Homo sapiens: one gene and its partner. The protein of the gene in region 2 purifies or fractionates together with the protein of the main gene of each other region. This does not show direct contact. Each region holds a gene or a part of one and is shown on either strand. Other genes may lie near its edges.

Region 1 (4,831 bases), on a different chromosome or scaffold from region 2:
AACATTTTTGAGCCCCCTTCTTTGTGTGTCATTCATTGTCTTGTGTGTATTATATAATTTAATCCCCTTAGCTCTACGAGGAGTGTGGAGTGATTCTCATCTCACAAGTGCAGAAACCGAGGCCTAGAGAGCTGAAATAACTTGTCTAAGCTTATATTCCCTCAAGAGGCAGGGCCAGGTTTTGAACCCAGGCCTAAAAGAGCTGCTTCTCGGGTTGTCATTGCCAGGTTGTGGGGTCTCCCTCTGTAGGAATGGAAGAGGTCTGTACTGGCTGAATGTGCCCCATTGGCAGGGATGGGGTGGCGCTGTCTTGGCCCTTTTACTTCACCCAAATTGCAGTCAGGGAGAGAAACCCCTGCGTCGGTGGCCCAGCCAGCAGCTGACAGGTGGGAAAGCTGCAGGGTGGCAGGAGAATGGTGAGTGCCATTAGAGGAGCTGGGGCTCACCTCTGGGAACCTCACAGGATTCAGATCCTGCAGGTCATTGCAGGGCCCTGCTGGTGGCCGGTGGTCCTACCTGAAGTGACCAGGAGGGTGATTTGAAGGCACAACCCCAAAGAGACACAGATCCCCTAGTTGGGGTCTAAGGGCCACTGTCCACTTAGCTCTGCCAGGGAAATACAGATCCTTTGCAGCGACACCCCATTCGGGGAAGAGAGCGGAGCTTTGAAGACTTCGTTCTGCCTGCAGAAGCGCCGGCAAGGGGGATGATGCACGGTAAAGTTAGAACAGCAGCACTGTGTCTGGGCACAGTGATCAGCCCTGATCTCAGGTGATCCGTCCGCCTCAGCCTCTAGCACTTTGGGAGGCCGAGGCAGGCAGATCACCCGAGGTCAGGAGTTCGACACCAGCCTGGCCAACATGGCAAAACCCCACTTCTACTAAAAATACAAAAATTAGCTGGGCGTAGTGGCGTGCACCTATAATCCCAGCTACTCGGGAGGCTGAGGCACAAGAATCTCTTGAACCTGGGAGGCAGAGGTTGCAGAGAGCTGAGATCACACCACTGAGGCTCTGTCTCCAGCCTGGGAGACAGAGCGGGACTCCATCTCAAAAAAAAAAAAAAAAAAAAAAACAGCAGCACAGCACTCTGAGCACTGCTTAGGTCTGAGCTATGCCCTGAACGTCACTGAACGCTTTAGGAAATAATAATTGTCGTCCATGGGCAAAGGGCCAAGGAGGCGTCGCTCTGTGTCCCCTTCCCCACGAGGCTGTGAGACCAGCCTTCTGTACTGGCCCAGAGCCCTTCTCCTAGCAGATGAGCTTGGAGTGCCAGCCACACCCTGGCTACTTTTCCAAGGAATAGTCATGGGGTGACCGCCCCTTGCACTGGGCCACCAACTGTCTGCAGAGCAACCCACAGGCCAGCCTGACCATGCAGCTGACTTTTCAGGAAACCTGAACAGCCCAGGGGTGTCTTTTCTCCAGTGGGGCCACAGCTTACCAAGTAGAGAAAGAGTATATAACCAGGCAGAAAAGCAAGTGAAAACCTTTCCAACATTCAGAACAGTCTATGGTAAGTCCAGAGCAGCTGACAGCCTTATATGGGCCTTCTCTCCAATCCAGGCCTGGAGATTCAGCCCGTCAGCAAGATCCCTAATCCCAGGCTGCAAACTTGTTGGGGAACTTCATTTTCTTGGTCCTAGGCCAGCAGCCTTTCCCAGCTCCCTGGTGTCCCTCCAGAACCATGGCTGCTGAATGAGGGCATCTAGGGGGGCTCCAGCCAGAGGCCGTGAATGCCCCCCCTTCCTCGGCCAGCCCCCTATCCATGATGAGGTGCCTGGTGATTTTCAGGACACGCGACACTTGGCCTTAGTAAGCTGGCATCCCCATCCTGGCTTGTGACCTGGGGCAGTTCATTTTATTGCTCTGGGCTTCATTTTTCTCCCTCCTGAAACCAGCACAGCTTACACAACCACAGCACAGCTTACACACCCACTCCCCTCTGGGGCAAAGAAGTACAGCGTGTGGCAAATGGAATTCCATTGTGGCACTTATTCCCGTGAACTCGGGAGGGCGGGAACCAAGACGAAACCAGTCGGGGCAGAGGTAGGGCTCCTTTGAACACCTGGTGGAGTTATTTGGATATAATAAACTTTTATTGCAGGCCAGAGGCCCTACCGGATTTTGTTCTCCTTCACACAAACGGGCGTGGTGAGTGCTGTTTGCAGGACAGAGCTGGTGTAGGGACGGGAGCCTGCTGTGTCCTCTCCCTGGGCTAAACTGAGAGCCCTGGTGAACAGTGAAAAACACTGTTCCATTTCTTGTGTAAAGGACACGCTGGCATATGCTACTGCTGCTACACCAGCCTTTCTTTTTTTTTTTTTTTTCTGGGCCTGTAATGTCAGCCTGAAAAAAGCAGAATAAACAACCCTTAAGCAAATTAATACCGTAATCCTAGAGAAGGCTCTGTGATGGATAACTTTTTCCATGAGTCAGACAGCAAGCTAACATTCGCTTGTTTTATAAAGGGGAACACTTTGTCATTTATCAACAGCAGCCTTGGCTAACAAGCTTGGGGTGTAAGCGATGAGTAGCTTCTCCAAAGGGAAGCACTGAATAGCCCTTGTAAAAACCAGCCCGAGCCCTGCAGTGGTTCCGTGACTTCCATGGGGCCTGCTTCCAGATGAGCTGTCCTGTAGCTTGCCGGCTGCTGCTGAGTCCCCGAACACAGCTGCCAGGGGATCGCTTCCCTTTTCCCGTGACTAGAGAGGGCTAAAGCTAGGCACTGCAGATCCGTAGCCATCCACGCAAGATTTAAAGCCCACAAAACCCGTGATCCTAAAATCTTCCTCTGCTGAGCCCTAGCATGAATATTTAATATTAACCACAAGCCCCATTAGGAGCATGTTCTCTTTCTCTGCGTGGGAAATACTTTCTCTTTAGTAGCTCACTTGCAGCTAATCCAATTCCCTTGGCCTCTGCCAGGACCGCCAGGTTCAAGAACTGGGATCTGGACTTAGAGAAAACATGTCTGCCTGTTCGTTCCCACTCCACGGTATTTCATGTGTTTGTAAATCCTTTTGATCTCTTAATACCTCCTGTTTATTCAGCCCCTGCTATGGAGCTCAAAGGAGTGACCTCATCCTTCCTTGACTTGCCCCCATTAGATGGGGAGAAACTGGGGCCTTTCTACTGTCCCCATGTGAGAGAACCAAAGGAGGCTGCCCTCTTACCCAGTGCTCCATGCATGGGGCTGCACAGCCTCCCCAAGCCCAGCTTGTGGCCTCAACAGCGTTTGACTGCCCAGGAAGATGCGACCTGACTTGAGGACAAGCTACATTTGTCCCCTTGCCCAGTGTGGGCCAGGCATGCACAAGAACAATACCCATATTCTTGCAACATGGGGTTTGCCAGTAACCCCACGTGACTTGACCTCACGACGGATGTGGGGGAGAAGGGGGAGGAACAAACGCTCTCTGTGTGCATTCTGCTCTGTGCTGCCCGTGAGCCTCAGCTGCGGGCAGACTGCATGGTTTGTTGCCTGCAAAGTCTCACCCCTGCTCGGGGTGCAGATGTGGGACAGTGAAGTCAGCGTGTCACCTGCCGAGGGTTCTCATCGAGTGTCCTGCTGTGTATTGTGGGGAAACATCACAGACTTTCTCTCTCGCGTGCGTGTTTTCAGCCCCTACATCAAGGATATCTCTCTGGTCCCAGTGAAAGGACAGTAGGGATACAGCAGCAGGTTAAAATTCACCATGGTGATTATTAATGATTGTTACTCATGCTTGGTATAATTGAGATTAACAACAGCTAGCATTTGTTGTGCACATGTGGATTATATCACTTAATCCTCACAGCAATCCTGGAAGTGGGCATTATTGCTACTCCTGTTTTACAGATAGAAAACTGTTGCACAGAGAGGTTAAGTGGCTTCCCCAGAGTCACAGATCTGGTGCTCTCGACATGTGACAGTAGCCTCTCCCAAGGCTAGATAGAACATGCCTGCAAGACAGGGAGGCACAGAGACTTTGCTGCTGGTTTTCCTTTGGGACCCATGTAGGGCTGGGGTGCTGATTAAGGGAATAGTCCCTGCAGGACAGCTGTGGCTTCTCAAGAATAGAACTGTGGGGTGGCCCCTCTGGGCATTCCTTTGGTGGGTTGTGGAACGAATGGGGCCAGTGCTGCTCTACTGTTTGTGTCCCAGGAATTTGCATTGTTCTGGGTTTGGGCAAAAGTTATAGAAGTTGCTGCCCTTCTCTCACCTCCTTTCCATGAGCCACTCAGATCAAGGGCTTAGTAATGGTGTCACTCATCCTCTCCTTAGCAAGGAGGAGCCTCTTCACCCTTAACCTGCAATAACTGAGTTATGACTGTTAAGATCTTGTTAGCATGCTATAGAGATCTTTTGAAATTTCCAGGAACATACCTCTTTAATTTTACTAGTAAGGAAATTGAGGCCCAGAGAGGGAAAATGTCTTACCCCAGGTCACACAGCAATTAGCATCAGTGTTAGGGCCAAAAGAAGGGTCTTCTGACACCCAGATCTGTGTCCTTTGCACTAGAGTCAGGTATTGGACCTTTGCCAAGAGGTGCCTTTGGGTGTTCCTAACTGTATGTGCCTAACCACCACCCAGCAACAGGGCAAAGAGGCCCGCCTTCTGGGAACAGGCAGAGTTGGTTCCCCCCACCCCTGGGTAGGGGGGTGCCTAGGTGTGCACGGCCCCTTCCTGCTGGAAATCTGCTCTGACAGCGTCCTCTGTAAGGCAGGGTCCCAGAAGTTAGCCAGAGTGTGGAAGGTATATGCTAACTAGCTTGAGTGGATTCATCTTGCTGGAAAGAGCTGACAGACTGGACCAGTTTGCATTCCGAATGTAGGGATTCCCGTGGAT
Region 2 (5,189 bases):
TAGAAAAGCACTGTGAAAATCCCGTCCTGTTCTGTTCTGTTCTAATTACCGGTGCATGCAACCCCCAGTCACGTACCCCCTGCTTGCCCAATTGATCACGACCCTCTCACGCAGACTCCCTTAGTTGTAAGCCCTTAAAAAGGTCAGGAATTGCTCACTCGGGGAGCTCAGTTTTTGGAGACGTGAGTCTTGCCAAAGCTCCCAGCCAAATAAAGCCCTTCCTTCTTTAACTCGGTGTCTGAGGGGATTTGTCTGCGGCTTGTCCTGCTACAGGATTACAGGCGTGAGCTACCACATCCAGCACATGTGTATAACTTCTTAAAACATTTTAAGCACTGCAGTAAATTTGGTCTCAAAGTTGACACAAGAAGATCCATGGCCAGGTGTAGTAAGTAGCTCTTGCCTATAATCCAAACAGTTTGGAGGCTGAAGGGGGAGGACTGCTTGAGGCTGCAGTGAGCCATGATCGGGCCACTGCACCCCAGCCTGGGTGACAGAGCAAGTCACCATTGTCAAAAAAAAAAAAAAAAACAAAACAAAAAACAAACAAAAAAAACCCAACAACTAAGATATGTGCAAGTTGTCAAAATCAAAATGGAGTCACTAGTGTTAACAAAAATGCAACCCTGAAGAGAAGGGTCTCACCCTTGTATGTCTGATAACAAGGATTAAGGGTTTTTTTTTTTCCTTTTTACAAAAACTACAACCTTACACAAAGGCCACTGCAACCTTGCACCAAAAAACTTCTCTCGTGAGAAAATCTGCCTAGCAACTGCCTGTCAACCTTGGACTGGTGTCATCCTTGTTATTGATCTTGGTAGCCAAGAATAATTACCTCAAAGTAATTTTGTAATCCTCGTCATTTGTCCTTAAAAACTTGTTTTCCTTTACTCCTCTGAATATGTACATAGTTGACTATAGCACAGGCATTCCCATTGCAATGCCCTATTCCCAAATACAGATCACTTCCTTTTAGAGAGCCTCTCTCCATTTGTCATTTAAATGAACAGACTTACCTCGCAAAAACAGAAAGAAACTGCTGGGATTCCAGAATATGCAAGGAAAGGGAAAGCAGCATTGTCTAAAGTGAGTTTCTCACTGCAAAGACAAAGAATGTGTCTTTAGAAAGTGTTTTAAAGAATAGACTGTTCTATCGTGCTAGTCCCCCCATCCAAAATAAATTCTTTAGCTGAATATCTTTAGGTGTAAGTAAGTTCAATGCAAGGACAGATTTAGATTCTACCTAATGTAGTAGGTAGAATCTCTGCTTTTCTATTAGTTTGTTCATTCACTTTTCTCAACTTACACTTTGCTGGCCCAGTTGCTGTCCTGATATAGAAATTGCCCAGTAACCGGATGCTTCACCTGTAAGATAAGAAATTATCATTAAAACTAACCTTTTGGAACTTATTTATTCAGGCTAGTCACTAACATGTTACTCTATAACAATTTTTAAATAAAAAACTTGTATTATATCTTCTTGAAAAGAAATTATTTATGATAGTTAAAACAATCTCAACTTTAAGTTATTACTAACTAGGCTCATGTTGTCAGTTCCTTTAGTTATGGTGAGGAAAAAATGTTTTCTTCTTAATTAACATTTTAAAAGTGGGCCTAGGCCGGGTGGGGTAGTTCACAACTGCAATCCCAACACTTTGGGAGGCCGAGCTGGGAGGATCACTTGAGCCCAGAAGTTTGAGACTAGCCTGGGCAACACAGCAAGACTTTATCTCTTAAAAAAAAAAAAGGAAAAAAAAATGAATAAAAGCTGGGCGCGGTGGCTCACACCTGTAATCCCAGCATTTTGGGAGGCCAAGGTCAAGAGATCATGAGGTCAAGGGATTGAGACCATCCTGGCCAACATGGTGAAACCCCGTCTCTACTAAAAATACAAAAATTAGCCAGGTGTGGTGGTGTGCACCTGTAGTCCCAGCTCCTCAGGAGGCTGAGGCAGGAGAATCGCTTGAACCCAGGAGGTGGAGGCTGCAGTGAGCCAAGATCGCACCATTGCACTCCAGCCTGAGTGCTGGAGGAAGACAGAGGAAGACTCCATCTCAAAAACAAACAAACAAACAAACAAAACCATGGTGGCTTACCCACAATTGTAAAAGCCCTCTCTGGGCTTCACACTATGCCTATCTTGTTTCTGGTTTCTTCCTTCTAGTGCATCTTATGCCACCAACCTAACTGGCAAATTCATGATCACCTTGCTTGAGATCCTATAATCCCTAGTATCTCTTGGATCAAGGCCAATGTCTGCTATCTGACCTGTTTCTAACTTTACTCACTCCAATATACAGCCTCTAATCCCATTAGGCAAATATTTTCTTTTTTATTTATTTATTTATTTTTTTTTTAATTATACTTTAAATTTTAGGGTACATGTGCACATTGTGCAGGTTAGTTACATATGTATACATGTGCCATGCTGGTGCACTGCACCCACTAACTCGTCATCTAGCGTTAGGTATATCTCCCAATGCTATCCCTCTCCCCTCCCCCCACCCCACATAGGCAAATATTTTCTTTCACATGCTCTCCCTCATTCAAAACTATGGTAATTGTTTATTCAATGAATATTTCCTCCGGCCTTCTCAAAGTATAGTTCAAGTTGATTTAAGCCTTCCTTAGCATTGTGACTCTATAGACAATCCCCTGTGGGCCCCTGCACTACAGCTTAGGCCTCATGGCATTTTGTTATATATTCCTAAATAAACAACATATTCTTTAAGATTGGAGCCCTCATCTCATATGGTTCAATAGGCAAGTATCCCTTAAATAACGCTGCTATAAAATTTATTCTCAATTCCTATTTTTTGTTACTGACTACGGTTTACATATCAGTGTTTTTTATCTCAGGTTGATTCAACAAAAATTAAGTCATACATTTTTGTAATGAGGTATATACTCACATTTTGCATTGTTTTCTCAATAAGCGTATACAACAGTGGGCTGGCAGAAACCTTGAAGTTGCTGGTACCTGAAAATAAATTGTTTTATCATTGCCCCTTCTCCATTCCGATAATTTTCACACTGCTACTTCTACAACTATAAGTACTTGACAAATAAGACAGTAATCTAGATCAGTGGCCCTGTGCAACAACTATCCCATTCATCAAGTAAACAAAAGTAATTTTGGTATCAAGCTCTTTAGCAACTAAGCTAACTTCACTCAAGTGGGCTCGTACTACTCCTTGAGTTTGCATACTTTAATCCAAGTCACCTTTTTTAAAAATATCAGAGCAGTTAGGCCGGGCACGGTGGCTCACGCCTGTAATCCCAGGACTTTGGGAGGCCCAGACGGGTGGATCACAAGGTCAGGAGATCGAGACCATCTTGGCTGGCACAGTGAAACCCCGTCTCTACTAAAAATACAAAAAATTAGCCGGGTGTGGTGGCGGGCACCTGTAGTCCCAGCTACTCGGGAGGCTGAGGCAGGAGAATGGCATGAACCCGGGAGGCGGAGCTTGCAGTGAGCTGGGATGGCGCCACTGCACTCCAGCCTGGGTGACAAAGCGAGACTCCATCTCAAAAAAAAAAAAAAAAAAAAAAAAAAAAATCAGACCAGTTTTAGGTTCAGCAGCAAAATTAAGAGAAAGGTACCTAGAGGTCCCATAAATCCACTGCCCCCACACATGTGCAGCCTCCCCCATTAGCAATTTCATGTTTAACTTTCTGGTTCACCCAGGTTAGAGCTATACATAGTATGCTTGCTATACTCAGCACATTCTGCGGCAAACATACAACAGGGAAATAACTAACCTAGAGAGGTTTAATTGTAACTCTTTCCTTTTTTCCCCCATGTAGACATTTCACTATTCTCAGCTCATCAGCTACATCTGCACTTTCTTTTTTACCCCATTCCTGTTGAATGTACAGCTGCACTTTAAATAACATTCAAACCCTTTTGTCAATTTTCTGCTGCCAGTGAACATTCAAACTCTTCTAGAAGTTTCATTATCCAATATTTCTATCAGTGATGCCACAACGTAACAGGATGTGAATTACTCTCTAAGTACCATTCTATATGGCATAGTTTAGTTTCTTCTCACCTCAATATAGTCCAGACTTATGGTCCTAAAACTTTAGTCCATCAGAATTACCTGTAGTGCTTGTTAAAGTTTTTTGTTTCTTTGTTTGGGTTTTTTTGCTTCAGGATACTTTGTCCTTAAGAAAATAATAGGTTTTTATTCCCCAAGGGTTGCCAAAAAAAAAGCCCAGTTTTTTTGTTTGTTTTTTTGAGATGGAGTCTCGCTCTGTCGCCCAGGCTGGAGGGCAATGGCGCCATCTTGGCTCACTGCAACCTCTGCCTCCCGGGTTCAAGTGATTCTCCTACCTCAGCCTCCTGAGTAGCTGGGATTACAGGTACTCGCCACCACACCCGGCTAATTTTGGTATTTTTAGTAGAGACGGGGTTTCACCATGTTGGCCAGGCTGGTCTCGAACTCCTGACCTCAGGTGATCCGCCTGCCTTGGCCTCCCAAGTGCTGGGATTACAGGCGTGCACCACTGCGCCCAGCCCAAAAAGCCCAGTTTTTAGACCAACACTCCCATTTCTGACTCAAAGGTCTGGGGTAGACATGACAGTTTGCATTCGTAACAGTTCCTAATGCTACTCATCTGGGGGCCACACTGAGAACTACCCACTGTTCTAGACAAGCAATTGTGCTCACTGTGTAACTTGACAGACTATTTAAAGGAAGGTTAAGATACAGGCTGAGGGCAATGGCTCATGCCTGTAACCGCAGCATTTTGGGCAGCTGACATAGAATGCTTGAACTCAGGAGTTTGACACCAGCCTGGGCAACATGGCAAAACCCCATCTCTACAAAAAAAATTAGCCAGGTGGCTGAAGTGGGAGGATCACCTGAGCCCAGGAGGTCAAGGCTGCAGTGAGCCAAGATTGTGCCACTGCACTCTAGCCTGGGCAATACAGTGAGACCCTGTCTCAAAAAAAAAAAAAAGCTTTCTTCCACTTCAAAGTAGTTTATCTGGCCAGGCACAGTGGCCCACATCTGTAATCCCAGGCCGAGGCAGGCAGATCGCCTGAGGTCAGGAGTTCGAGACCATCCTGGCCAACATAGTGAAGCCCTGTCTCTACTAAAAATACAAAAAATTAGCTGGGTGTGGTAGTGAGCACCTGTAATCCCAGCTACTCAGGAGGCTAAGGCAGGAGAATCGCTTGAATC

The links. The genes of interacting proteins can lie anywhere in the genome.
Region 1: the proteins of TFRC (region 2) and CD9 purify together in Homo sapiens (co-immunoprecipitation; 2 studies listed by IntAct). This does not show direct contact.

What each region holds. Positions count from the first base shown.
Region 1 is NC_000012.12:6,227,508-6,232,338, forward strand, and holds part of CD9 (CD9 antigen), read left to right. Parts: intron 1-4,831. UniProt on the Homo sapiens protein: Integral membrane protein associated with integrins, which regulates different processes, such as sperm-egg fusion, platelet activation and aggregation, and cell adhesion.
Region 2 is NC_000003.12:196,057,268-196,062,456, forward strand, and holds part of TFRC (transferrin receptor protein 1), read right to left. Parts: intron 2,981-5,189; coding exon 2,913-2,980; intron 1,366-2,912; coding exon 1,307-1,365; intron 1,099-1,306; coding exon 1,017-1,098; intron 1-1,016. UniProt on the Homo sapiens protein: Cellular uptake of iron occurs via receptor-mediated endocytosis of ligand-occupied transferrin receptor into specialized endosomes. Endosomal acidification leads to iron release.